7 linked regions of the Homo sapiens genome follow. The protein of the gene in region 6 purifies or fractionates together with the protein of the main gene of each other region. This does not show direct contact. Each region holds a gene or a part of one and is shown on either strand. Other genes may lie near its edges.

Evidence for each region.
Region 1: the proteins of CSTF1 (region 6) and XPO6 fractionate together in Homo sapiens (co-fractionation; one large-scale study listed by BioGRID). This does not show direct contact.
Region 2: the proteins of CSTF1 (region 6) and NPEPL1 fractionate together in Homo sapiens (co-fractionation; one large-scale study listed by BioGRID). This does not show direct contact.
Region 3: the proteins of CSTF1 (region 6) and NMD3 fractionate together in Homo sapiens (co-fractionation; one large-scale study listed by BioGRID). This does not show direct contact.
Region 4: the proteins of CSTF1 (region 6) and DNAAF5 fractionate together in Homo sapiens (co-fractionation; one large-scale study listed by BioGRID). This does not show direct contact.
Region 5: the proteins of CSTF1 (region 6) and TTC27 fractionate together in Homo sapiens (co-fractionation; one large-scale study listed by BioGRID). This does not show direct contact.
Region 7: the proteins of CSTF1 (region 6) and PARN purify together in Homo sapiens (affinity purification with western blotting, with the first as the bait; one study listed by BioGRID). This does not show direct contact.

The regions. Positions count from the first base shown.
Region 1 is NC_000016.10:28,100,402-28,104,407, forward strand, and holds part of XPO6 (exportin-6), read right to left. Parts: intron 1,545-4,006; coding exon 1,446-1,544; intron 1,288-1,445; coding exon 1,057-1,287; intron 1-1,056. UniProt on the Homo sapiens protein: Mediates the nuclear export of actin and profilin-actin complexes in somatic cells.
Region 2 is NC_000020.11:58,709,627-58,713,659, forward strand, and holds part of NPEPL1 (probable aminopeptidase NPEPL1), read left to right. Parts: intron 1-2,852; coding exon 2,853-2,953; intron 2,954-3,793; coding exon 3,794-3,917; intron 3,918-4,033. UniProt on the Homo sapiens protein: Probably catalyzes the removal of unsubstituted N-terminal amino acids from various peptides.
Region 3 is NC_000003.12:161,248,050-161,252,310, reverse strand, and holds the end of NMD3 (60S ribosomal export protein NMD3), read right to left. Parts: intron 2,858-4,261; coding exon 2,751-2,857; intron 2,056-2,750; coding exon 1,985-2,055; intron 1,532-1,984; coding exon 1,401-1,531; 3' UTR 4-1,400; downstream 1-3. UniProt on the Homo sapiens protein: Acts as an adapter for the XPO1/CRM1-mediated export of the 60S ribosomal subunit.
Region 4 is NC_000007.14:732,987-737,247, reverse strand, and holds part of DNAAF5 (dynein axonemal assembly factor 5), read right to left. Parts: intron 1-4,261. UniProt on the Homo sapiens protein: Cytoplasmic protein involved in the delivery of the dynein machinery to the motile cilium.
Region 5 is NC_000002.12:32,633,982-32,638,242, reverse strand, and holds part of TTC27 (tetratricopeptide repeat protein 27), read right to left. Parts: coding exon 4,238-4,261; intron 2,989-4,237; exon of another isoform or gene 2,912-2,988; intron 1-2,911.
Region 6 is NC_000020.11:56,398,600-56,402,860, reverse strand, and holds part of CSTF1 (cleavage stimulation factor subunit 1), read right to left. Parts: intron 3,895-4,261; coding exon 3,504-3,894; intron 1-3,503. UniProt on the Homo sapiens protein: One of the multiple factors required for polyadenylation and 3'-end cleavage of mammalian pre-mRNAs. May be responsible for the interaction of CSTF with other factors to form a stable complex on the pre-mRNA.
Region 7 is NC_000016.10:14,577,702-14,581,962, forward strand, and holds part of PARN (poly(A)-specific ribonuclease PARN), read right to left. Parts: intron 3,243-4,261; coding exon 3,173-3,242; intron 1-3,172. UniProt on the Homo sapiens protein: 3'-exoribonuclease that has a preference for poly(A) tails of mRNAs, thereby efficiently degrading poly(A) tails.

The sequences.
Region 1 (4,006 bases), on a different chromosome or scaffold from region 6:
TATCCAGGGGCTGAAGTGAACTGGAAGAGGCTTAGGAGAGAACAAGTCCCAAGAAAAGGAAGACCCCAAGACAAAGGAGAACAGGATGAGTCTAAGCAAAAGCTTCCCTGCCACACGTGGCAAATGAGGAAAGCAGGCGGCCAGGTTTGCACCAGTGAGAGCAGTGTGTGCATCTGAGCACTACGGTGGAGCCGTGGACAAGCTGCTTCACAGAGGACTCAGGTCAAGAACCCCAAGAGGACCAGGGAGAAAGCGATTTCTTTTCCTAATTTCATCAAGTATAAAACGGTACAAGGAAAAGTTCCCAGAAGTTCCTATCAGGCAAGAGAGAGGCCTGGTCACCTGACACAGGAAGAAGAGAACAGGTGAGCCCCATGGGGAAGGAGGTCCCAGGCACTGTCAGGCTCCAACAAGATGGCCTCATGGACACCAAGAGCCAGCAGCACCCAGCTCCCACCGAGGTGCTGCACGGGTGGGGACAGCCCACCTGACAGTCCCTGCACAGGTGGCAGCAGTGGGACAAGAGGGTGAGTACTAGGAGGGCTCCTCCCAGGACCTGGCAGCAACTCAGCCCAAGCTGAGCTGGGGCTGGTCTGGAAAGAGCCCAAGACAGCCGGGGAACCTGGGTCCCACCTCTAACCCTGGGGACCCAGAAGTGCAGCTCCCAAGCACCAACCATCTCAGCCTGAATGCAAGCCTGGGCACACTCCAATGCTGGCCCCACCGGGGCTCATCACCCAGGAGGGAGAACGGCAGGGTCCTGGGTATGAACAAAGATGCCAAGACAAATGGAGGGGCTGCAGAGCCAGGAACTCGGGACCTCCATGGCTGAGACTAAGAACATACGTGCTACAGACACCAAGACTGGGGAAAAGGCTGTGCCCCTCAATCAGGCTACAGCACCAGGTCAGCAGGCATCTCGTGAGCTGCCGCCAAGCTGCAGGGTGGGCACAGACCACGCCCAGAGGCCTCAATGTGCCCCCTCCTTGCTGCACAGGTGCCAGGCTTGCGTGCCCACTCTGCCCTCCTCTTAGCCCGGCCTCTTTCTCTCCTCACCCGATCCATCTTGAAATTCCGCCCCAGCACACTTTTCTGGTTGGCATCCACACCATCACAGCTGGTCAGGAACTCTGGGAGGAAGGCGGCAAAGAAGCCATCAAAGTCGACTGAGGCCATGTTGTAGATGGCGATGCCAATCTCCTCCTGCAGAAGATCATGGGACTTGTGGACCAGGACCTGGAGCAGCACGTTCACAAACTGGAACAGCATGGCAGTCCGGAAGATCTTCTGCAGGCAGAGAGACCAGGTGAGCAGCAGCCAGCCCCCAGGGGCCTGTCCCGGGTCCCATCCACTTTCTGTCACACTCTCCAGTGAGTAACCTGAGGGTGGGACACAGGCCACAATGCCCCTGATGGAAGAATATTTCCAAGAGCTGGGGCACTTACCTTGTGGTACAGCTTCTGCTTGGTGTTGAGAGTCTCCAAGTAGAAGAGATTTTGTTTAAAAAGGTGGATGTCGGGCTGGAGAAAGGACTGTCCGAAAGCCTAGGAAATGAGACCACCATTTTATAAACTGCAAGACCAAGCACTTCTGGAGCATCTACCCCATGTCAGAAGAACAAGTGCCAGGGCCAGGGTACCCATTGTCTTGATGCTTCTGGCCCACCAGCTCAGACCTCTACGACGCTCCTCCTAAGTCTCAGAGTTCATGTTTTCCCCACCGGGCCTTGCTTCTTATTATGGTCTCATATATACCTTTTTTAACAAACCTCTAGAAACCCATCACAGGACCTGGCTTTGAAGCAAGAAGCTCACACCTCTAGTCAAATCCCTCAGCAATCCTGGCAGACAGACACCAAAGCCTGCCTGCCTGCTCCTGCTCAAGCCAAGCAATCCCCTCCCTTGCCCTCCTTCTTGCATCCCCCGTCTCAAAAGCCACAAGCCCTACAGGCTCCTTCATGGAGCCTCCACCTGGAGGTTAAGCCTCTGCCTGGGGGCTAAGCAAAGTATTTTTAAACTGCTTTGGAATTCCTGGGTGTAAAAGTTACTAGTTCAGTCCAGGCACAGAAGCTCAGTCCTGTAATCCCAGCACTTTGGGAAGCCGAGGTGGGCGGATCACTGAAGGGTGGGAGTTCAAGACCAGCCTGGCCAACACGGTAAAACCCCATCTCTACTAAAAATACAAAAATTAGCCAGGCGTGGTGGCGGACGCCTGTAATCACAGCTACTCGGGAGGCTGAGGCAGGAGAATCACTTCAATCCAGGAGGCAGAGATTGCAGTAAGCTGAGATCCTACCACTCACTGCACTCCAGCCTAGGCAACAGAGCAAGACTTATCTCAAAAAAAGAAAAAAGAAAAAAATTACTAGTTCAGGGGCAAAAAGAAACACCCCGCACACCAACACAAAGTGCCCTGCTCCAACAGAAAGAATAGAAAGTGACCATGGGGGCAGTCGGGGAGGCCGGTGGTCTGCAGGACCCCCCTACAAAACAAGTGGTGACTGCTTTGTCATTCTGTCCCTGGGCCCCTAAGCTACCAGAGGAGGATCTTGTAATCCCTGCAGCAGGGATGAGATCTCCATGATGACCAATAGTTTCCACTTATTTACTGTTTAAAGTTAGGTTCATGGAAGTATAACAGAGTAAACTTTTGAGGTTTATCTTTCTATGAATTCTGACCTACCTGTGGATTTGTACCACCACCATCACAACCAAGACAGGACACTTCCATCACCTGGAACGTCCCCTCACACCCTCACCCCTAAGGCAACCACTGCTCATTATCTGTCCCTGTGGTTCTACCTTTTCCAGAATGTCATAGAATGGCATGGGATCCTACCATGCATAGCCTTTGGCATCTAGCTTCTTTCACCTGACAGAATGCATGTGAAACTCATCTATGCTGCTGATTGTACCAAGAATCCATGCTTGCTTATTGCCGAGTGCCAGTCCCTTAGAGGCATGCACGAGCCTGTTCATCCATTCAGCTGCTGGATACTCAAAGTGTTTCCAGCTTTGGCAATTATGAAACAGCTTCTATAAACATCAGTGTACAGGTTGTGTGAACATATGCTTTCATTTATCTTGGGTAAAATACTTAGAAGTGAGACTGCTAGGTCATACAGTAACTACACACTTAACTTTAAAAGAAACTGCCAAACTGTGAAACTATTCTCCAAAGTGCCTTTCACCAGCCCTCAGTGGGGACCAGGCACCAGCGTGCCAAAGAAGTCTTCCAGGCAAGGACAGGGTTCAAGAGAAAGGCAGGGGAGGCGCAAACACTTGAGTACTGCAGACCTGAGGCCTCGGTGGGTGCCAGGGATGGGAAGGCCAGGGCAAGGGCACGTGCCTGAAAAGAACTGCCACACAAGAGTCAGTATGTGTGTGTGTGCGCGCGCATGCGCACGTGCATGCCTGTGTGCATGCTGTGTGCTAGTAGGGAGCTGGAGGGAGGGTGGAAATCCCTCTTGCTTCCCCATGAGGAAAAGCATGCACTGAAAATACCAAAAGAGACTCCCCTAGCTAGACTCAGATGAGAACGTCAGACACTTGAGTGCAGACCCTGGGAGCGTGCCTGACACAGCCACAGAGCAGGCTGGCTGTCTGGGCGAGGTGATGCCGTCCCAGTCTTCCACAGCAAGGGGTATTTAGCCCCCAGACAGTGCACTCTCTCCAATGGACAGCTGCATCTGCCCTGAAAGCGAATGCTCCCTCCCAGGGCAGTGTTTCTCCCAGTATGGTCAGAGTCAGAATCACAGTGCAGGTCTGGGGCCCTCCTGCGGAGACTCATATTCAGGCAGCTCCCCGCTAAGAAGGCCCTCGGTGACTCTGGCATAGGCAGGCTCTTTACACTTGGGGAAACAGCACTATGAGGTCAGCGGAACTGACGTTTATCAAGCATCTCCAAGTGTCATGCACTTTGTGTATGTCATCTCATTTAACCTCACAACAAACCTGTGACCCAGGCAACATTAGCTCCACTTTGCAGATGAAGAAACTGAGGCTCC
Region 2 (4,033 bases), 2.3 Mb from region 6:
GTGTCCCAGGGCATGTCACCAGGGCAGGGACAGAGCCACCTGACATGCCTCCAGAGGCAGTGTACAGGGAAGGACAGAGCATTTCTGCAGGATTCCCACCAAAAATGCATGGCCTGCCTGTAGTCACAAGGACACGTCAGACAAACCCAGCACTGAAAGTGCCAAGGCCACAAAAGACAAAGCCAGACTATGCAGTCGCCCAGATTAAGGAGGGCAAGCAGGCCAGGCTTGATGTGTGGTCTGATCTGATCTGGACGTCTGAGGAGCACATGGAATCTGGATGGTCCCGAGAGGTGATGGTCCTGTGTTGGTGATTACTACCCCCTGCTGCCCATTGTCCCATGGCTGGACAAGATGCTGACATTGGCAGAATCTGGGTGAAGGGTGTTGAGGAATTGTTTGTGGCTTTTTTTTTTTTTTTTTTTTCCCCGAGATGGTGTCTTGCTCTGTTGCCCAGGCTGGTGTGCAGTGGTGCGATCTCGGCTCACTGCAACGCCTCCCAGGTTTAAGTGATTCTCCTGCCTCAGCCTCCAGAGTAGCTGAGATTACAGGCATGTGCCACCACCCTTGGCTAATTTTTGTATTTTTAGTAGAGACAGGGTTTCACCTTGTTGGCCAGGCTGGTCTTGAACTCCTGACCTCAAGTGATCCGCCCACCTCAGCCTCCCAAAGTGCTGGGATTCTGGCATGGGCCACTGCTCCTGGCTGTTTGTGACTATTTCTGCAATTTTTTTGTAAGTTTGAAATTATTTCACAGTGAAATGTTTTGAACTTTTTAGAAAGAGGATGTACCATTCAAAGATGGAAGGGTACGCCAGGAGCTCGGTGGCCCTGGGCTCTGGGGGTGTTAGCGACCCTCCAAGCCTGGCACCAAAAAAAAAAGCCCCTGACCCACTTACCAACCCAAAACCCTTGGCCGCCCTGGGGGACCAGGCCCAAGCCCTGGCGTAGCACTGGAGACCCTTCCCACGCTGTCGCTGAAGCACTCACAGTCCAGCCCCATCTTTGGCCACCCTCTTCTGTTAGACCAGCAAGTCCCAACTGTGCCAGGTAACACCCAGGAAGTGTGTGAACATTGACAGCTCCAGGGCTCACCTCCAGCTCTGCTGAGTCTTGGATTTTTTCAGCCGCTCCTGGTGATTGGAGAACACCTCCAGACTGGCCGTGAGGGCCGCAAGGGCAGGGCCGTGCCTGTGCTGTCTCTGTCTCACGTCTTCCAGCCGTGCAGACCTCAGCACTGTTTGCCCCAGGACTGCAGCTCGCTCGTCTTCTAAGCCAGCACTTCTCAAGTGGGGTCCCCATGTTGTTAGTAATATGGGTTCTCAGCTCTGCCCCAGACCTGCTGGATCAGAAATTAGGGGCAGGGCCCAGCCTTCAGCGGGTAGCAGCCCTCCCTGGGAGGCTGAAAGCATCCATTTGGGAATCCTCCTCCTCCCCGCTCCTCCCTCCTCCCCCCCCGCCTCCTCTCCTCCTCCTCCTCCCCCCCTCCTCCCCCTCTCCTCCTCCTCCCCACGCCCCAGCAGGCTACAGATCCAGAACTCTGCTTTCTAGGAGGACTTCAGGGCTCCCCTCCTTTGTTGGTGGAGCTCATCTCTGTGGCGTCCATGGCCTGGAGCCCCATGGCCTCATCCTGTGACCTCAGGGTCATGCTGTCATTTATTCGTTGTTCCTAAACACCCACTTCTCCCTGGAATGACCACAGGAGGCCTCAGCACAGGGACAGGCCGTGGTCACTGTACACACAGATGGAATGTCAGTGCTGGGGTATCTGGGGAGGAGCTCTGAGAGGAGGAGGCTGAGGGTCCTGAAGCCCCTGCCCCGTGTCCCTGACACAGGCTGGGCTGCGAGAGTGGGAGCGGGGGACTTGGGGCCCTTGTGGAGCTGACAGGTGGCTCCGATATCATCACCCTGAGGCTGGTGGGGTTCTTTCCCCTGTGCTGCGTGGGGGTGCGGGGCCATCTGTGAGGCTCAAGGACTGAGCGGGGACCCAGGGAGGTCTCAGGGACTCGCAGCTGCCATGCCCAGCACCACTGCTGCAGCTCCTGCCACTGGCCACTCCTTGCCCTGCTGGCTGCCCCTGCCCCACCATCCCAAGTGTTTGCCTTTGGTGAGGGCTCTGCACCCGTGGTGGAAGAGTCGGCTGTTCCAGGAGATGAGAAAGACGCTGGATCCTATAGAGCTGTGTGTCCGCGCTCTCGAGGCATGCTCCATGCTAGGAGGATGTATTCTGGTTAAAGATTCGTCTGCGGGAGCAGAGGAAGGGCAGGGACAGGGGTCTGGGAGCTCTACTCCATTTGACATTGCTGCCCGGGTGTGGCCCGCTTCGGGGTCAGGGGGCACCCTTAGAACCTGTGCAGGGCAGGAACTGCCACCATCTGTTGGCCACACATTTCTCAGTGAACAAATGACTTTTGGCATCAGAAAGCCATAACTTCACACCTAAACTTCCACGAGGCTGAGCTCTTCCTGCCCCTCTGTGTGTGTACGTGTGTGTGTGTGTGTATTGAGGGGACGCGGCTGCTGGCCACCTTCTGTCGGCACAGGTTGGCGAGGCTTCATGACTGCCCAGCCCATGCAGTCCAAGAGTCCCACAGCCCAGCCCATGCCCAGGCTCATCCACTGCGGCGGGTGGCCTCTGCCAGGGGAGGCTAGGAAACCCCAGTGGTGAGCCTTGGCCTTGGGATCTGCCAGGACTGTACCCGGGATGGCAGGGAGGGCGAGCTTTGGTCCCTGCAACTTGGAGCCATCTCTCTCTCTCCTGCTGTCTGTGGGTCTGAGAACCCCCAGCTCGTCCTCCCCCCTCCCCAAACCTATGACCTACAACTGGAGCCTCTGCCCACTTCTCCCTCCAGGGTTTCAAAGACAACCTCCACGCTGTGTTCTGCTTGGCTGAGAACTCGGTGGGGCCCAATGCGACAAGGCCAGATGACATCCACCTGCTGTACTCAGGGAAGTACGTCTGGCCCTCCCACTCCTTCCTGCCCACTGTTGGAACTCGCGACCCTTCCCGGCCTGCAATGCCAGCTCACTCCAGGCATATCGGGAGGGCACTCAGCGTTGGGGTCCCCTGGGCAGCAGGCTCCTTGCTTCCCGGAGGGCTGGGGAGCTTTGGTAGCAGGCGCACCTCACGTTGAGGGGCCCATGGCACCTGGATGAGGTGCTAGGCTCCCGTGCAGTGCCTGGCCCAGGAGCTCGTGGTCTACCCTGCATTACCAGGACAGGTCTTTCCAAAATTTAGGCCTGAAATCTTTGGGTGTGTGAAGCTCTGACCCCCAGATTCCCTGCTCGGGGACACCTCCTGCATCTCCCCCTTGAGATTGACCCTGGAAAGTCAAAGCTGAGCTGGCAGCTGAGGAGCAAGTGGCTCCAGAATTCAAAAGAGAAGAGCCCTCTCCCCAGCCCCATGAGCTGGTGCCTGAGTGGGCGCCTCCCCGCATCTCCTGCTCTTCCTCCCCATCTGCCGGGTGCCAGGCACAGTGTGCTGAAGGCCAGCCCAGCCGGTTCATGCCACCCACTTTACAGAAGAAGAAACTGAGGCATGGGAGAGCCAAATGGCTGGTCTCTGGCTCTCCAGAGCAGCGGGGCAGGGATGTCACCTGGAAGCCCTTTGCTCCAGGCACTGCATTGCTGTAGGGACTGGGGGCATCCCGGCCTTCCCATTCAGGGAACGTGTTGGGGTTCGGGGAGCCACAGGGATGGGCAGCTCCAAATGGGGTCTCCCCAGTTTCAAAGGGGCTCATGCCAGTGTCCCAGGAAATCCCGTCCCTGAGCGGGGATCTCTACCATGCCCCAGGACGGTGGAAATCAACAACACGGATGCCGAGGGCAGGCTGGTGCTGGCAGATGGCGTGTCCTATGCTTGCAAGGACCTGGGGGCCGACATCATCCTGGACATGGCCACCCTGACCGGGGCTCAGGTGAGTGCTCCCTGGATCCACCCCTTAGCTGTAGTCCCAGGGAACCCCACCCCACTCTTGACCTCAAGGTGGGGAAGGCAGCGCGTGGGGGCTGCCGTCAGGAAGTTTTCATAACT
Region 3 (4,261 bases), on a different chromosome or scaffold from region 6:
CCATTTCAAACACACGAAAAAGGGCAAGAATGGCTTTATTTTCATGCTTTAAAATATCTTGACACGGAAGATGTAAACACAGACCACCAATGAGAACTTGCTTTGGTCAATCTTACCTTTGAAGAACTAGGACAAGCCATTCCTACCAGGCCACCACCAAAGACAGGATATGGCTTTTAGATCCACAATTTTAACAAAATATGCAGACAGAAAAGAAGCCACTATAGAAAATTTAGGACTTTATCCATAATTTCAAAATTGGAAAGTCCAATATTAAAAAAAAGAAAAATGTTCCACACAGTGGCACTTGCTCAATCTCTTTATTTAGTGGCACACATGGAATGAATGAATTAGCTCTTACTTGCGGCATACTTAACAAGTCTGATCTTGCTTATAGAAATTGGATCTTAATACTTCATTCTCAGAATACTTCAAAACGTAAGCCACAGTTTTTCTTTCAAGGATGTGGGAAGCATTCCTCATTCAAATCTGATTAATGGTTTTATAAAGTATGTACCTCATTTTTATTAGCCATTATCTTCATGCTGGATTCTAATATTCTTTTTAATGGTGATCTGTTCAATGACAGAAACTTATAGAGAGAAAATTCCTTCTCAATTTATAAACAAAAATTTTAAAAGCAGCATTTTTGATGTGGTAGGAAGATATTTATGACAAAAGCAGCTACTGCCCTAAACTGGCAAAAACAACAAAAGAACAAATTGTTATTTAACCTTTAAATAACGAGTCTCTATTTGCTATAAATCTACAAATATTTTAAATATATTTCCTCCTACTGCAATAAAAATTAAGATAACTCTCTGTTTAACGGCTTTTGAAGAGTTAATTTTATAAGGAAATAAAAAAGATTGACTTGCCTCCTGAATGTCCAGTGATAAACTGAACCCTAATTTCCCTACCTCAACAACATAAAAATGATGTAAAGTGGATCAAAGTATGTAACAAGTTAATATTAAAAATGCTTCTTCATATGGTCTTTCACTAAAATAATCAACGTAAAAATAATGTAAAAATGTGTTTTTGCTTGAAGATTTAGTGAACGTTCAAGGAATCACAATTTTTGAGCTTTTACATCCAGAGTACTATACTATGTGAAAATACTACAGTGCCTCATATAAAAAAGCACAGTGATAAAATTCCAAATGTAAAATTGCCAAAAATCAATAACAACTACATTCTCCATAATCTTTCCTTATCTAAAACCTCAAAGCTATCCATCTGTTTTAGTGGTTTGAGTGAGCACTGAAAACAAACATGTTTATTCAGGTTTAAAACTAAATTTCTCCTCTTGAAATCTGGAGGCAAAGATAGTAGAGACACTTAAGGTAACTCTGTCCAACTTCTTAAGCCCATGTATGGAAACAGTCTACAACATCTCATTATGTCAGCATTGATGCACCTTCTTCACCAGTGGCATCTTGGGAAATATGAAGGTCTTCAAGCATCTCAGCCAGACTAATTCGAGGTGCTCCTTCATCATCGGTGTCACTTTCCACAGGGATGGCTGAATCTAAAAAAATACAAAGAGAATAAAATAAATACAAAGTATTTATATGTATACAAAGTATTAAATATATTTGAAAATATACAAATATCTACCTTATCATTATTATTATGTAACTACATTGTATCAGAAGCTCTTGTCTCTTACAGCAGTCATTCAAATTACATTCACTGAACAAATGAACTGAGTAACTGTAAGAATATACTTCCACCACTATAGGAGTGAGCAACTTAAGGGATCAAGCTAGAATGCAAATAATACTAACTGTAATATACAAAACAGTATTTTGTTAAGTTTTATTTATTGTTTTGCAAGTTTTTTTGTAGAAGTGTGACTAGAGTAGTTGAAAAAACAATTAAAGACATTTATGAGAATCAAAGCTTAAGATACCAAAATATTCATACTAGGAACTATACTTATATACAGAACAAATGACTTAAACACTCCTAGAACACCAACCTCTGTAAATGTTGACATTTTTTCGAATTGCCTCATCTTCTTCAAGATCTTCAAGAAAATCTTGGTATTGCCTTTAAATAAACATTTAAATATTTCATCACCAAAAATATAGTTATATTTTCTTCATTTAAGGACTTTCATTTTAAGGACTATGTAGACATACTGCTGTTTCCAACTCACATTTCATGAAACAATTTTATATAAACTCTCAGTTTTTTTAGACATCGGTGTCTTCACCATCATTAAAGCCACTTTTTGAATCATCCAATAAACTGTTTTAGAACACTGTCTTCATTTCTGCTTAAATTATTTGAGGAATAACACACTTGGCATCAATGAGCTGTTTCCTTTTTATCTCAAGCCATAAGTACTCATCTGCTATTTGTGATATTCATAATGTAATTATTTATTATAAAGTCATGTGCCACATATTCTATGATGCTCACACAACAAAATCACCTAATGATGCATTTCTCAGAAGGTATGCCCATTGTTAAGCAAAGTATGATTATATTTTAACTTTTCAAATGAATTGTTTACATTAACACTACAATTATTAGGTCATAAACCAGGAAATAATTACTAAATCTGTGTTAAATGTCTTTACATCATCTTATACTGATTCCATTAATACCTTGATAAGAATCCAAGATTATAATTGAGTGCAAGGATCAATTGTGTGATGCCTATTTCTTTACAACATAAAAAGTATTTATCATAAATATTTCCTTTGAGACAACATAAGAGATTTAAAGAAAAGCGAGACCTTTCATCATCTGTATCCATGTTTTCTCTCTCTCTTGCAAGCTCTTTCAATTTCCAGTTTCTACGACGCTGACGTTTGGTCCGGTCATAGCTCTTCTTGATTAATACCTGCAAGATAAATATTTGTAAAGTTACAAAGAATGGGAACTATACAGTGAGGCCACAAAATTCAATAAAGCTAAAAAATGACCAAACTAATGACACTGGTTACACCTCAGGAGAAAGGAGAAGGGATGGAGAGACAGTGTCAAGAGGACTTTTAAAATTTTTCTCCATGTATTTAACTTTTTATGAGAATGGATTCAAGCATTATTTGTACAATTGTTAAAATTTGCTAAAATTTTTCAGTGACTGAATACTGTTTTTCTTAATAACAAAAACTGTAGTTTTCTTTTAACTCAAACTTCAGTTTTCAGCTACCATTCATATAAATCATTCTGAATATCACAAGTAGATACTTTTTTTCTCTTATACCCACCAATAAGCATTTACAGAACTATATATAACTTTCACAACAATGTATCTTAGAACGCTTGTTTAATAAATTATAGAATGAAAATAATTTTACAAAATACAAAATATTGTAAGATTGCCATGATCTCCTCTTATGACCTTGTTAGAAATACCTATTTAGACTTACACTCCAACCACGCTGTTAATTCCTAATTTATCAACTAATAAAAGTACAACTGGGCAGGTGGTCGGAGTCCTTGATTTGTCATGGCTCTACTTTTTTTGCTCACTGCTAAAGAAATCAATGTTTATTCTAAAAGATTAAGCAAGTATAGAAGACAGGGTCTTTCACACTAATTTCATTCAGTTTCTCATGATTCTTAACCTCATCATGTTAGAACTTAACAGATTTTTCAGAATTAATAGTTTTTTTCCAAGGCTTGATACTGTGAAGATTATTTTTCACGGATATTTTATTCAGCTTTGAATAACAGCCTTAACTCTAAATGCCTTCTTAACTGAACAATGTATGTGAAACGAAGTGAGCCTAATAAAAATGAACCTGAAAAAATGCTAAATGTCATCATTTTTAGCTGCAAATTTATTTATTTATCTTTTGGAGACGGAATCTTGCTCTATCACCCAGGCTGGAATGCAGTGGCATGATCTTGGCTCACTGCAACCTCCACTTCCCAGGTTCAAGCAATTCTCCTGCCTCAGCCTCCTAAGTAGCTGGGACTACAGGTGCATGCCACCACGCCTGGCTAATTTTTTGTATTTTAGTAAAGATGGGGTTTCACTGTGTTTTCCAGGCTGGTCTCGAACTCCTAAGCTCAAGCAATCCACCCACCTCAGCCTCCCAGAGTGCTAGGATTACAGGCATGAGCCACCGCACCCGGCTAAATTTATTTTTGCTCTACAGATAATATCAGGTATTTTGATCGAGAATGAAAATGTGATTAGAAAAGGAACAATCACAATAAATCTTGGATTTACCCCACCAAGAAAAATTATTTAAAATGAAGCCAGGCATGATAGGTGACACCTGTAATCCCAGCT
Region 4 (4,261 bases), on a different chromosome or scaffold from region 6:
GGTGGGTGCCTGTAGTCCCAGCTACTCGGGAGGCTGAGGCAGGAGAATCGCTTGAACCTGGGAGGCGGAGGTTGCAGTGAGCTGAGATGGCGCCATTGCACTCCAGCCTGGGTGACAGAGTGAGACTCCATCTCAAAAATAAAACAATAAAAATAAATAAATAAATAAAAATAAAAATAACTACAATGACTTTTCAAGACAAAGATATAAGTAAAAACAACAAAAAGTTAAAAAGCTGAGGGCATAAAATTAAGGTGTAGAGTTTTTATTCATTTTTTTCTTGGCTTGCTTGTTTTTGGAATCAGTGTTCAGCTATCAGTTTAAAATAATGGGTTATGTTATTTGCAAGCCTCATGGTAACTTCAAATAAAAAACGCCACAACAGATACACACACACACAAAAAAGAAATTAAAACATACCGCCAGAGAAAATCATCTTCATAAAAAGGAAAACAAGAAGGCAAGAAGGAAGGAAGAGCAGACCACGAAACAACCAGAAAACAACAAAACGGCAGGAGTAAGTCCTTACTTATCAATAACAACATTGAACGTAACCAGACTAAACTCTCCATTCAAAAGACAGAGCGGCTGAATGGGTAAAGAAAAACAGGACCCAGCAATCTGTTGCCTACAAGAAATACACGTCACTAAAAAGGCACACGTAGGCTGAAAATAAAGGGATGCGAAAAAAGATATTCCATACAAATGGAAAGCAAGAAAGAGCAGGAATAGCTACACTTAAGACAAAACAGATTTCAAGACGAAAACTATACTAAGAGACAAAGGTCATCATATAATGATAAAGGGGTCAACTCAGCAAGAGGATATAACAACTTTAAATATATATGCACCCAACACTGGAGTATCCAGATATATAAACCAAATATTACTAGAGCTAAAGAGAGAGACAGACTCCAACACAGTAACAGCTAGAGGCTTCAATGCCCCACTTCCAGTACTGGACAAATCATCCAGAGAGAAAATCAACAAAGAAACATCAGACTTAATCTGTACTATAGATCTAATGGACCTCATAGGTATTTATAGAACATTGCATCCAACAGCTACAGAATACACATTCTTCTCCTCAGCACACAGATCATTTTCAAGGACAGACCATATGTTAGGCCACGAAACAAGCCTTAAAACATGAAACTAGAAATTAATAACAAGAACTTTGGAAACTACACAAATACATGGAAATTAAATAATATGCTCCTGAATGACCGGTGGGTCAATGAAGAAATTAAGAAGGAAATTTTAAAAATTCTTAAATGAAAATGGAAACACAATATGCAAAAACAGCAAAAGCAGCACTAAGAGGCAAGTGTATAGCAATTAGCACCTACATTCAAAGAGCAGATAACTTCAAACAGCAACCTAACACTGCATCGTAAAGAACTAGGAAAGCAAGAGCAAACCAAACCCAAAATTAGTAGAAGACAAGAAATAAGAGCAGAAATAAATGAAATTGAAATTAAAAAAAATACAAAAGACCAACAAAATGAACAGTTAGATTTTTGGACAAGCAAAATCAACACACCTTTAACCAGACTAAGAAAAAGAGAAGACCCAAGTAAATAAAATCAGAGATCGAAGAGGACATTACAAACAACTGATACTACAGAAATTCAAAGCATCATTAGAGACTGTGAGCAACTACACTGTGAGCAATGACATCGTGAGCAGCGACACTGTGAGCAGCTACACCATGAAGAAAACCGTGAGCAACAATATCAGCAACTACAATATGAGCAACGACACCATGAGCAGCTACACCGGGAGCAGCTACACCATGAACAACTACACCGTGAGCAGCGACGTTGTAAGCAGCTACACCATGAAGAACAACACCATGAGCAATATGAGCAACTACAATATGAGCAACGACACCATGAGCAGCTACACCGTGAGCAGCTACACCATGAACTACACCGTGAGCAATGACATCGTGAGCGGCGACACTGTGAGCAGCTACACCATGAAGAACAACACCACGAGCAACGGTATGAGCAACTACAATATAAGCAATGACACCGTGAGCAGCTACACCGTGAGCAGCTACACCATGAGCAGCTACACCATGAACTACACCGTGAGCAATGACATCGTGAGTGGCGACACTGTGAGCAGCTACACCATGAAGAACACCATGAGCAACAGTATGAGCAACTACAATATGAGCAACGACACTGTGAGCAGCTACACCGTGAGCAGCTACACCATGAACTACACCGTGAGCAATGACATCGTGAGCAGCGACACTGTGAGCAGCTATACCATGAAGAACAACACTATGAGCAACAATATGAGCAACTACAATATGAGCAACGACACTGTGAGCAACACCGTGAGCAGCTACACTGTGAGCAACTATACTGTGAGCAACTATATGCCAATAAATTGGAAAACCTAGAAGAAATGGATAAATTCCTAGACACATATGACCTACACAGATTAAATCATAAATCCAAACCTTGAACAGACCAGTAACAAGTAATGATATTGAAGCCGCAATGAAAAGCCACTGAGCAAAGAAAAGCCCGGGTCGCAATATTTCACTGCCAAATGTTATCAAACGTTTAAAGAACTAATGTCACTCCTACTCAAACTATTCCAAGAACTAGAAGAGGAAGGAATACCTCCAAACTTAATTTATGAGGCCAGTACTACCCTGATACCAGAACCAGCCAGATGCAATCGAAAAGGAAAACTACAGGACAATATCCCTGATGAACACTGACGCAAAGTTTCCACTGTTTCAACAGCACATGAGAAAGATCATTTGTCATGACCAAGTGAGATTTATTCCAGGAATGCAAGGATGGCTCAACATACACAAATCCATCAATGTGACACATCATATCGGCAGAATGAAGGACAAGAACTACGTGATTATTTCAAGTGATGCTGAAAAGTATTGATAAAATTCAACATCCCTACATGATAAAAATCTTCAAAAAACTGGGTATAGAAGGAACACACCTCAGTACAATAAAAGCCATATACAAGACTCACAGCTAGTACCACACTGAATGGGGAAAAATTGAAAGCCTTTCTTCTAAATCTGGAGCAAGACAAGGATGCTCGCTTTCACCACTGTTAGTTAACACAGTACTGGAAGCTCTAGCTAGAACAATTAGACAAGAAAAATAAAGGGAATCCAAATTGAAAAGGAAGATAATTATTCTTGTTTGCAGATGATATAATCTTACATTTGGAAAAACCTAAAGATTCCACAAAAAACCTATTAGAACAGATAAACAAATTCAGTAAAGTTGCAGGATACAAAATCACCAAAAAAGCCCCAGTAGCATTTCTACATGCCAACAGTTAACAAATCTGAAAAAGAAATCAAGAAAGTAATTCCATTTACAATAGCTACAAACAAAATAAGATACCTAGGAATTAACTTAACCAAAGAAGTGAAAGATCTCTACAATGAAAACTATAAGGCCAGGCGCAGTGGCTCACACCTGTAATCCCAGCACTTTGGGAGGCTGAGGCAGTCGGATCACGAAGTCAGGAGATTGAGACCATCCTGGCTAACATGGTGAAACTGTCTCTACTAAAAACACAAAAAATTAGCCAGGTGCGGTGGCAGGCACCTGTAGTCCCAGCTACTCGGGAGGCTGAGGAAGGAGAATGGCGTGAACCTGGGAGGCGGAGCTTGCAGTAAGCAGAGATCGCACCACTGCACTCCACCCTGGATGACAGAGCGAGACTGTCTCAAAAAAAAGAAAGAAAACTATAAACCACTGACATGAGAAAACTGAAGAGGACACACACAAAAAATGGTAACATACTCCATGGACTGGAAGAATCAATATTGTCCATACTACCCAAAATGTCCATACTACCCAAAGCAATTTACAGACTCAACGCAATCCCTATCAAAATACCAATGACATTCTTCACAGAAATAGAAAAAATAATCCTAAATTTATATGGAACCTCGAAAGACGTTGAATAGCCAAAGCCATCCTGAGCAAAAAACAAAACAAGACAAAAACAAACAAAAAACTGGAGGGATCACATTACCTGACTTCAATTTATACTACAGAGCTACAGCGACCAGAACAGCTTGGCACTGGCATAAAAACAGACACACAGACCAATGGAACAGAATAGAGAAGCCAGAAATTAAATCCATACATTTACAGTGAACTTATTTTGACAAAGGTGCCAAGGACATATCTTGGGGAGAGGACAGTTTCTTCAATAAATGGTGCTGGGAAAACTGGAACTCCATATGCAGAAA
Region 5 (4,261 bases), on a different chromosome or scaffold from region 6:
AAGCATACAAGGAATTATTTAAAAAAAAAACTTCAATAATTAATGAAATATTATCAAGTTTTTACAACTGCCTCAATTTTAGAGGTGAGGAAACAGATCCATAAAAATTAAGTGAAGCCCATGTTTCCAATTCCCAAATCAATTCCCAAACCAGCCCACGCTGGTAGAAAGAACATTGGTTTGGGAACTGGAAACAGATCTCTCTACCTCTTCCTGCCCCTCAGGAAGGGCTAGGGCTATGCTAAGCATTTGGAGAGCCTCAAGGACATGGCCAGGATGACTTTTAGCCTTCTGACTGGCACTACACCATGGTGGCGTGTGTAACTGAAATACAGACACAAAAAGAGAAGACCTTCATCATGAGTTCAGTCTTGGACATGATGAGGAAATGAGGTATTCTGTGAGAACCCCAACTGGAGGTACTGAATGTACAGTGAATATACTGACTTGAGAACTCAGAAGAACCTGCCTAAAGTGCCCAAACTAGACCTGCAGCCTCATCGGATCATGTTGTAAATTCAAGTAGATATAACAAGCTGATTTCCTAAAGCCCAAGCCAAACTGGTAAAGCACAAGAAGATAATAAGGAATGTCTTTAAGAAAGAGAATCCTGGCCAGGCCCGGTGGCTCACACCTGGAATCTCAGCACTTTGGGAGGCTGAGGCAGGCAGATCATAAGGTCAAGAGCTTGAGAGCAGCCTGGCCAATAAGGTGAAACCCCGTCTCTATTAAAAAATACAAAAATTAGCCAGGCACGGTGGCGGGCGCCTGTAGTCCCAGCTACTCAGGAGGCTGAGGCAGGAGAATCACTTGAACCCGGGAGGCGGAGGTTGCAGTGAGCTGAGATTGCGCCACTGCACTCCAGCCTGGGCAACACAGTGAGACTCCGTCTGAAAAAAAAAAAGAAAGAAAAAGAAAAAGAATCCTTCTCCTAATCACTCTGAGACAAGAAATATGTCTGCCTGTTCTACCACAAATTTCAGGTCATTATCTTCTACATGAATCCCTAAATATAAAGAACAAACAAGTAATTTAACATAGCAACAAATAAAAATTATACAGGGAGACAGCACATGGTATACTATCTGGAGAGCATTACCTGTGACACTCAAGCTAGGTTGTGAGTACAAAGGAGATTTATTATTTAAATTGTATACATTTCATATGCTCTTTTAAGTGTTGGCAGTAGTTCCAATAAAAAAGTTAAAATCAAAGACTTAGTCAAAGTTTCCTACAACTCCAAATGACCTCCATCAAGTGATTTTTCACTGCTAAAAGAGGCAAGTTCAAAGCATCCTTTTCCCACAAACACTATGCTGTCCTCTCCTCTAAATTCCTGCTCATATGACTGCACCTAGAATGGATATTTTCCTCTTCTCTATCCATTTTCTAACCATCCTTCAGGTTCTAGCTCAAGGTCCACTTCCAACTAAAAGGTCTTCTTTGACAAAATCCAGCTTCCACAAATCTCTTTGTTAATGGCAATATTTCTTATGGTCTGAACTTCTCATGAAACTCATTTCCATATTGTTTTGATTTGCTACCTGAATTTACAGGTGCTTCTACACTAGTATAGAAGAGTACTGGATTTGGAACCAGAAAATGTGGATTCCAATGCCCCAGCTACAGATCTCTGACAAGATTCTTTTACCACTCTGAGCTTCAGTCTTTTCACCTATAGATTACCTCAAATCTGTAAGGACCAAATTGGCACAAGAAATGTGAATTAAGGCCAGGCGCAGTGGCTCACACCATAATCCTAACACTTTGGGAGGCCGAGGCGGGTGGATCACCTGAGGTCAGGAGTTTGAGACCACCCTGGCCAACATGGTGAAACCCCGTCTCTACTAAAAATACAAAAATTAGCCGGGCGTGGTGGTGAGCACCTGTAGTCCCAGCTGCTTGGGAGGCTGAGGTGGGAGAATCATTTGAACCCGGGAGGCAGAGACTGCAGTGAGCCGAGATCGCACCACTGCACTCCAGCCTGGGCGACAGAGTGAGACTCCGTCTCAAAACAAAAAAAAAGAAATGCGAATTAAGTACCATTCAAACCACACATCAGTGTTCAGGAGATATTTATGGCTTTGGCTGTTTGGTGGATTTCTAATCTATACTATAGGGCCATAGAAGCCAGAAACTGATTCATACATAATAAGAGAGGGAATGAGATGTTTCCTAAGTACATTTCTAGATAACTGAAGCTTATCTCTTTAACTGCTACAATCATTTAGGGTTTGGGGTTTTTTTACTCCCATTTTGGATGAAAACCTCTGTAGAATATAAATTATAAATTCCCTTCATAGACATAAGACACAAAACATCTTTTAACCTTTCAGTTATAATTAGGATCAGCATTATGGATTAAAATTACTCTAATGAAGTATATATAGTGACTCACTAAGCTGATATGCAAAGAGTTAATTATTGTGGTTTTCACTTTATGCTTGTTTTTGCACTTCTTCTCTTTCTACCCCCCCATCAAATTATTAACACATATCTCTAATAACTCTATTCCACATTTACTTGCTACACCCAATTCTTTTTCTTTTTTCTTTTTTTGAAATGGAGTCTCACTCTGTCACCCAGGCTGGAGTGCAGTGGCGTGATCTTGGCTCACTGCAACCTCCGCCTCCCGGGTTCAAGCAATTGTCCTGCCTCAGCCTCCTGAGTAGCTGGGATTACAAGCGTGCACCACCACACCCGGCTAATTTTTGTATTTTTAGTAAGACGGAGTTTCACCATGTTGATCAGGCTGGTCTTGAACTCCTGACCTCGTGAACCGCCCGCCTTGGCCTTCCAAAGTGCTGGGATTACAGGCATGAGCCACTGTGCCCGGCCTACTTGCTACACCTAATTCTGAGAAACCAGGTAACACTAGGTCTGTTTTGCTGCACGAGTTCTGGATACAATTTGGTGATTTTGAACATAGCTATCAATCACTCAGCTTTTTCCAGGCTGAGTGGTGGATAGCTACGTTCAAAATCACCAAAGTGGCTGGATAAATCAAAGTTCTTACTTTGATTTAAACCATACTTCTTTTGTAGATCATCTCATACTAGCCAGACCCTCTATATAGGAGCTCAAGATTCCTGAGGAACTCAAACTGCAAGCTCTATTGGCGACACACTGGCACAGATCGATAATATTATCTTCACAATGGATAATAATCACCATGAAGCAATGCTGTGCCAGAAACTTTAATAAAGTATTTGTAATTTAAAGCCACCCCTGGGAGCAAACCACTCCTGGGAGCCATTCTTAAGTACAGTATCAAAACTTACCTGCAAGCCGGGAATGGTGGCTCACGCCTGTAAACCCAGCACTTTGGGAGGCTGAGGTGGGAGGATCACTTAAGGTCAGGAGTTTGGGACCAGCCTGGCCAACATGGAGAAACCCCACATCTAGTAAAAATACAAAAATTAGCCAAGTGTGGTAGCACACGCCTGTAATCCCAGCTACTAGGGAGGCTGAAGCAGAAGAATTGCTTGAACCCATGGGGCAGAGGTTGCAGTGAGCTGAGATCGCGCCATTGTACTCCAGCCTGGGTGACAGAGCAAGACTCTGTCTCAAAAAAAATTAATTAATTAATTAGTTAAAAACTTACCTGAAATAAAATTAAACAGATTTCCAGATTTGCTGCTTTGCCATTAAAGATCTTTATGTACAGCGCTCACACCTATAATCCTAGCACTTTGGGAGGCTGAGGCAGGCAGACCACTTGAGCCCAGGAGTTTCAGACCAGCCTGGGCAACATGGCAAAACTCCATCTCTACAAAAAAATTAGCTGGACATGTTGGCATGCAACTGTAGTCCCAACTACTTGGGAGGCTGAGGTGGGAAGATCGCCTGAGCCTGAGTAGGTTGAGGGTGCAGTGAGCTGTAATCCAGCCACTGTACAACAGCCTGGATGACTGAGTGAGATACCATCTCAAAAAAAAAAAATCTTTATGTAACTGAGGTGATACAACCAACTAAACAACTGGTGCAGCTGTCTGTACTTTCATTAAAAAACACAGCTAACACAGCTCCATAAAATGGAGTGTGTATGAAGAGGAGTTTGACAAAGGAACTTCTGGAAATCTGTGAAAATCTGATCAATGAACAAGCATTCTTAGTACTTTTGTGCAAACCATAAAGTCATGTTTCTTTCCTACTATGAGTTCCAGTTTATAAAGACCTGCTTATAAAAAATAAATAACATAATAATAATTACATACAACATTTTCAAGAAGCATACCTCACTGAATTGCTGGAACAAAAC
Region 6 (4,261 bases):
TGGGTTCGAGTGATTCTCCCGCCTCAGCCTCCCAAGTAGCTGGGACTACAGGTGGACACCACCACACCCAGCCAATTTTTGTATTTTTAGTAAAGACAGGGTTTCACCAGGTTGGCCAGGATGGTCTTTATCTCCTGACCTTGTGATCCACCTGCTTCGGCCTCCCAAAGTGCTGGGATTACAGGTGTGAGCCACCATGCCCGGCCTGTTTAACAATTCTTTTACTTCCTGACATTTAGTTTATATCAATTATAAGTAATGTTGTAATGAACATCCTTTGTACAGAAAGCTTTATTTCCTTAGGAGTAAATTCCTAGAGACAGAATTACTGAGACAAAGTATATGAATATCTACTTTCCAAAAGGAAGCCTTTTTATGACTATAAATTACATATTTTATGTTTAAAAGTACCAAATAAAGTATAAAAAGGAAAATAAAAACTGCCTAATAATTGCACCCATCAGAGGTAACAGTCAATACTTTGGTGAATACTCTTTCGAAATATCTAAGTGTTATGTGCTCACTTGTAAATTCTCTCTTTTTTTTTTTTTTTTGAGATAGAGTCTTACTCTGTTGCCCAGGCTGGAGTGCAATGGTGTGATCTCGGCTCACTGCAACCTCTGCCTCCTGGGTTCAAGAGATTCTCCTGCCTCAGCCTCCTGAGTAGCTGGGATTACAGGCATGTGCCACCACACTCAACTAATTTTTGTATTTTTAGTAGAGATGGGGTTTCACCATGTTGGCCAGGCTGGTCTCAAACTCCTGACCTCAGATGATCTGCCCACCTTGGCCTCCCAAAGTGCTGGGATAATAGGTGTGAGCCACAGTCCCTGGCTTCATTTGTAACTTCTTTAAGTCAGAGCATTTGTCATATACTATTAATATTCAAGCATATGTAGTGCAGATCTGTAAAGACAGAATACAGCTTAGTGGATAAAAACACAAAGTCTGTGTGGTCAGATGTGGGTTCAACACTAATGTGACCCTGGGCAAATTACTTAACATTCCTCAGCCTTAATTTTCTCATCTGTTCCATGGAGTAGTTACAGAACCTACCCCATAAGGCTGTGAGGATTAAGAATAAGAGAATGCAAAGGAGGCTCTGGAGTGCGAGTGCTCAGCCCATGTTAGCATGCATACTTATTTTTAAAGGTGTATGTTGTCCATGGATGCGTAACAGATTTCCTCAGTGCTTCTTATTGGACATTTATGCTGTTTCTAACTTTCAGCCACTCCAAATGATGTTGGGACACACATCCTTTTATGGGCATGTGCATGTCTGTCCAATTACCTCTTTAGGTTGAATTTCTAAGAGTAGATATAGTGGGTCAAAAAGCGTGTATTTAAAATTTTGATATGACACCAAACTGTGCTGAAATATTTTACCAGCTGACTCTGACCAACAAAATATGATTTCCCGAAATCTCTATCAATAGTAGATAATATAAATCTTTAAGACTCCTGAAATCTGATTAACAAAACCAGGTCCCCATATTCATTTCTTGGGTCTGCAGCAAGGCTGGCCACCTTTTCTTACATTTCCTGACCATTTTTCTCTTCTGCAGCCCCCTGTCCTTTGGCTCCTTTTTTCTCGAGTTTGGACTCATCTTTTTCCCATATGAGTTCTCTTTATAGATTAAGGATGTTAACTCAATGTCTAACATCTGTATATATGCTATAACCATTTTCTCCCAGTCCTGTATGTTATTTATATTGTTTTTAATTTTTTGCATCCCAATTTCTAAAGTTTTGATAGTTTTTCCTTTTTCATCATTTCAAAAACCCTCTGAATTCTAACTAATTATTATTATTATCATTTTTTGAGACGGAGTCTTACTCTGTCGCCCAGGCTGGAGTACAGCAGCGCAATCTCGGCTCACTGCAACCTCCACCTCCCAGGTTCAAGCTATTCTCCTGCCTCAGCCTCCCAAGTAGCTGGGACTACAGGCGCCCGCCACCAAGCCCAGCTAATTTTTGTATTTTTCATAGAGACGGGGTTTCACCATATTGGCCAGGCTGGTCTCAAACTCCTGACCTTGTGATCTGCCCACCTCGGCCTCCCAAAGTGCTGGGATTACAGGTGTGAGCCACCGCGCCTGGCCCAAATTCTAACTAATTATTAAAACTGGGAACAGAAATCTTAACATGCTGACATGACAGGCGCTTGACCTGTGAAATGAGAAAAAAGGAAAAGGGGAATCTGTGCATAAATTCAGCATAATCACATTTTTGAAAAACCACACTGCTATTCCCCACTAAAACAAGCCAATCAACCTCATACTATTATAAAACACCCAAAACATTCCTAGAGCAAATATATAAGCTATTGTCAGTAGGCTGGTGTGTATCTGTCCAGATACAGCACACTCCTTAAAACAGTTATAACTTCTATAGGGGGAGTACTTTCACATTTACCCTGATCACTTTTTTATCTTCTTTTTGCAACAAACACAACTATTATAAAGTAGTTCTTTATAATAAATACTTTTCAGAACAACTTTATACAAGTGTTTCAATGAAGTCACCAAGAATTATGATAAAAATGGCTCTTCCTAAGATTTGCTAGTGGTACCAGAAGCCAGAAAGATGGCTGGGGAAGGGAACTTTGGTTACAATGAGACAAATCTAAGGCAAGTTATGCTGCCCCCTAGTGGGTCAGATGTCACTGACTCTTCAATGCAAACTTAAACACAATCCAGTCCCTTCCAATACTGTTTTCTTGTGATTTTTTTTGAGTTATGCTCATGCCAATTTTAGTGTATGATACAAACATATCTCACAATGGAAGAAACAATCAGAAATTTTCTGGAGGTTTTCTACCAAACAACAGTCTTTGCTGCTACAAGGAACAGAAGACAGTGTTTTAACATTCATTATCAAATAACCAGACTTGGGCCCTACTAGTGATAGGATAAATTTAAATGGATTTCATTATAAAAAGACTCCACAGGCACTACTGTTACCAATGAGACCAACATACATAAATGAGAATTCAGTGGATGCAATTTTTTTCTGTCTGCTGAGCCTACTTTATATCTGCATTCAGAATTAACGTGGTTTCCTTTGCGGGCTAGGTCTGCTCTCTTAGGAATGGGATAAGATCTTCCCTCTCAGCCATTCTTTCATGAATACATATATTAATAATACTGAGATCTACTATTGGAAACTTTTCTCTGGATTGCTTTCACATTTCTGTGGGAAGAGGGCATGCCAGTCTACAAATGGATCACCAGGTTCTCAAATGTTACTTGCATGGAATCCAGCCCTAGTCCACGGTGTGAGGTGCTCAGAAGAGCAAAGAAAGCACCGTTCTATTTCCAAGTCGTGTAGCCTTGGCTAAATGACTTAACCTGTAAGTCTTGGTTTCCTCTTATCTAAGAAAGGGTAACATCTGCCTTGCTCAATGCATAGATATTGTGTTGCTCTATTGTGAGGTCTTAAAAGAGAGTTCTGGAAAGTGTAAACACTACAGAAATGTTAAGTAACATCAACGTCTCACATACCCGTGTATCTGACCAGTGTTCGTCCCGTTGATATTTCCCAAAGTTTAGCTACAGAGTCTTTTCCACTTGAGAGAATGTATTTAGAATTTTTGGAAAAAATGGCAGAACAAACTTCAGCACCGTCATGTGCTTTCTCAAAAGTTGTGATGCATCGATTTGAAACACCATCCCATAATTTGATGCAGCCGTCCTTGCTTCCAGTTACGTACATATTGGCACTAGAATTGTAATTAACGGAACATATAGCATCGGTGTGTTGATCTTGAGGATTGCAAGAGACAAAACATTGAAAGGTGTTGATATCATAAAGGCGAAGAGTAGGATGCTGAGTTCCGACAAGTATAAAGTCTCCAGAAGGATGAAAAGAGATGGAACGTAACATTTCAGCTTCCTGTTGGGACAGAGACATTAATACAAGTGACCAACTGGTGAACAATTAAATCCAGAGGAAATGTGGAAAATATCTGGCTGATGAAAAGAATCTATAAAACAATTATTAGATATTACACAGGTATCATAAGAAAAAAAGTGCTTTCTGGAACATATGAAAGTATTTTTTGAATAGATTTCCAAAACTAAATATTTACTGGTTATATTATTCCAAAAACTACAGAAGTGAGCTTCATTATTTACAAATGAACACTGAGTAAACTAAGGATGGAGTATTATCAGACAATGACACATTCATGCATGGTTAACTGAAGTACAACTTGTACCTAAGAGCTTCTTTAATTTGCTCTAGGGCTGCAAATATTGAG
Region 7 (4,261 bases), on a different chromosome or scaffold from region 6:
TTGTTGCCCAGGCTGGAATGCAGTGGCGCAATCTCGGCTCACTGCAACCTCTGCCTCCTGGGTTCAAGCAATTCTCCTGCCTCAGCCCCCCCAGTAGCTGGGATTACAGGCACCCATCAACACGCTCAGCTACTTTTTGTATTTGTAGTAGAGACAGGGTTTCGCCATGTTGGCCAGGCTGGTCTTGAACTCCTGACCTCAGGTGATCCGCCCGCCTCAGCCTCCCAAAGTGCTGGGATTACAGACATAGGCCAACGCATCTGGCCATAAAACCCACTTTCTAAGGGGGTTAAGAATGAATGCCTATACTTAACCAAGTTATTCCAATAAATAATAATAAAAACAGGCCATGCATGGTGGCTCACGCCTGTAATCCCAACACTTTGGGAGGCCAAGGCAGGTGGATCACCTGAGGTCAGGAGTTTGAGACCAGCCTGGCCAACATGGTGAAACCCTGTCTCTACTAAAAATACAAAAATTAGCAGGGCGTGGTGGTACGAGCCTGTAGTCCCAGCTACTCAGGAGGCTGAGGCAGGAGAATCACTTGAACCTAGGAGGTGGAGGTTGCAGTGAGCTGAGATCACGCCACTGCACTCCAGCCTAAGTGACAGAGTGAGACTCTGTCTCACCAAAAAAAAAAAAAAAAAAAAAGAGGAATAAAAACAGTTCTTGGCTAGGCGCGGTGACTAACGTCTGTAACTCCAGCACTCTGGGAGGCCGAGGCGGGTGGATCACCTGAGGTCAGGAGTTCGAGACCAGCCTGACCAACATGGAGAAACCCCATCTCTACTAAAAATACAAAAAAATGGCCGGGCATGGTGGCACTTGCCTGTAATCCCAGCTACTTGGGAGGCTGAGACAGGAGAATCACTTGAACCCGAGAGGCAGAGGTTGCGGTGAGCCGAGATCACGCCATTGCACTCCAGCCTGGGCAACAAGAGTGAAACAACATCTCAAAAAAAAAAGAAAGAAAAAAAACACAGTTCTTATTTTGTATTTCAAATCTTGCAGGAATATTTTTCCTTTAATGATGAAGAAAATATTCTTCCTTTACAGATTGGAAAAAAATAGACCAAAAAAATAATCACAGAAGGATTCCCAAATCCCACCTCCTATTCAACTACTCTTGGTATGCATCTAGGTTTTACAAAAAAATTCTGAATGGACAGATGTCCCAATTCAAAATAAGCCTACACATTTACTGTCTAGTTCTTTTCAATAATAGTCCTGCACAGTATTAGCAATATTAGATTGATCTAGAAATACAGAAAGTCTCAGCTAGCTTTTTTTTCTTTTTTTTTTTGAGAGGGAGTCTCACTCTGTTGCCCAGGCTGGAGTGCAGTGGTGTGATCTTGGCTCACTGCAGCTTCCGCCTCCTGGTTTCAAGCGATTCTCCTGCCTTAGCCTCCCGAGTAGCTGGGAATACAGGCTAATTTTTGTACTTTTAGTACAGACCGGTTTTCACCATGCTGGCCAGGCTGGTCTCGAACTCCTGACCTCGAGTGATCTGCCCGCCTTGTTCTCCCAAAGTGCTGGGATTACAGGCGTAAGCCACTATACCCAGCCCAGCTAAGCTTTTTAATCAAAGTTTATTTTGATTGCTCTGCATGTTGGTCACATACATGACTGATAAACTAGATGCAGCCCACATCTAACCCAGTTTGCATCCAACATCTGATTTTATAAGGAGCTGACTTTAGTGGAGAAGCAGGATTACTGTTTTAATATTTACAGCGTGTAAATATTTACAAATGACTACTCAAGAGACTGAGGTGGAAGGGTCACTTGAGCTCAGGAGGTGGAGGCTGCAGTGAGCCAAGATCATGCCACTGCACTCCAGCATGGAAAAAAGAGCAAGACCGTGACTCAAAAAAATAATAATAATAATACAAATGAGTCAACATCTCTCAGTTGAAAAATACTGCAGAACAATGAATTTAACATCAAGTACATAAAAATGTAAGGGAACAATCATAATTGGACCTATATTTAGCTGGCCACGGTGGTTCACACCTGTAATCCCAGCACTTTGGGAGGCTGAGGTGGGCAGATAACCTGAGGTCAGGGAGTTCGAGAGAAGCCTATTCAGCATGGTGAAACACCATCTCTACTAAAAATATAAAGATTAGCCAGGTGTGGTGGTACATGCCTGTAGTTCCAGCTACTCCATAGGCTGCAGCAGGAGGACTGCTTGAACCCAGGAGGCAGACATTGCCGTGAGCTGAGATTGTGCCACTGCACTCCACATTGCAGCCTGGGTGACAGAGTGAGACACCATCTCAAAAAAAAAAAAAAAGAACTATATTTAACATCAATCACCTGTGGGTTCCATGGTCTACAGCAAAGGCTACATTTCCAAAGACAAACACTGCCCCAAAAAATAAAAGAGCTAAGAAAATCATGTTTTCTACAGGCGCCCGCCACCGTGCCGGCTAATTTTTTGTATTTTTAGTAGAGATGGGGTTTCACCGTGTTAGCCAGGATGGTCTCAATCTCCTGACTTCATGATCCGCCTGCCTCAGTCTCCCAAAGTTGGGGGATTACAGGCGTGAGCCACCGCGCCTGGCCAGGAAATTTTCTTTTGTTTTTTTTGTTTTTTTTTTTCAGACAGAGTTTTGCTGTGTTGCCCAGGCTGCAGTGCAGTGGTGCAATCTCAGCTCACTGCAACCTCTGCCACCTGGGTTGAAGCAATTCTCCCACTACAGCCTCCCGAGTAGCTGGGATTACAGGCACATGCCACCACGCCTGGCTAATTTTTGTATTTTTAATAGAGACGAGTTTCATCATGTTGGCCAGGCTGGCCTCGAACTCCTGACCTCAAGCACTCTGCCCACCTCAGCCTCCCAAAGTGCTGGGATTACAGGTGTGAGCCACCACACCCGGCCCCTCATAGGAAATTTAAATGCCAGAACTACCAGTTCTTTTTCTTGGAAGAGATCTACTATACTACGTCTAGCAATGTTTTCTTTTTTTTTTTTAAGCCTATATTTTTAATACATTTGTTCCCCAAAAGGTCACTTTCTACTTTCAAAAAACATGTGAGTCACTCGAGATGAAAAACAGCTTATCTAAAAATGTGTTATAGCTCCCAATAACTCCAAACTGACATCCCAAGATATGAGGCTGTTCCACAGTGAGAGAACTTGGAAACTGGAACTCTCTGATTACTTACTTGTTAAAAAAAGGTTCAATGAGTTTTGATCTGGCAGACACATGAATTTTTGGAGGGCTGAGAAAAGAACCTAATGAAGAAAAGAAGAGAGGTATTATTATTCATAGTCACATAGACCAAGCCTGAAAGTTCAGACCAAAACAGATTTAAATTAACAGCATGGTTCAACAAGTGTGAAAGGTATTCTTTTTTTTTTGAGTCAGAGTTTCACTCTTGTTGCCCAGGCTGGAGTGCAATGGCGCAATCTCGGTTCACTGAAACTTCCACCTCCCAGATTCAAGTGATTGTCCTGCCTCAGCCTCCCGAGGACCAGGGATTACAGACATGTGCCACCATGCCCAGCTAATTTTGTATTTTTAGTGGAGACAGGGTTTTTCCATGTTGGTCAGGCTGGTCTCAAACTCCTAACCTCAGGTGATCCACCCACCTCAGCCTCCTAAAGTGCTGGGATTACAGGAGTAAGCCACTGCGCCCGGCCTGTGAAAGGTATTCTTACGCACCAAGTACCATACCACAGCAAGTGTCAGTGGTTTTTCTTGCAGATTTCCTCCTCCCCTCATCTCCTCCCACTCCTACCTCAAAACCCTCCCACTTTTAATTGGGTGAGTGGATCCCAAGGAAATGGTAGTGCTATAGGTTCAATGTTTGTGTCCCCCTAAAATTCATATGTTGAAGCCTCCCCAGTACGATGGTATTTGGAAGTGAGACCTTTGGGAGGTAATTAAGTCACGAGGGAATTAGTGCCCTTATAAGAAGGGTCAGGAGGCTGGGTGCGGTGGCTCAAGCCTGTAATTCCAGCACTTTGGGAGGCTGAGGTAGGAGGATCACTTGAGCCCAGAAATTCTAGATCAGCCTGGTTAACACAGCAAGACCCTGTCTCTATAAAAAAATTAAAAAGTTAGCCAGGCACAGTGATGCACACCAGTAGTCCCAGCTACTTGGGAGGCTGAGCCCAGGAGTTCAGCGTTGCAGTAAGCTATGATTGAACCACTGTACTTCCAGCCTGGGTGACAGAGTGAGACCCTGACTCTTAAAAAAGAGGCGGCACAGCTTCTGCTCTCTCTGCTCTCCACCACGTAAGGACAGGAG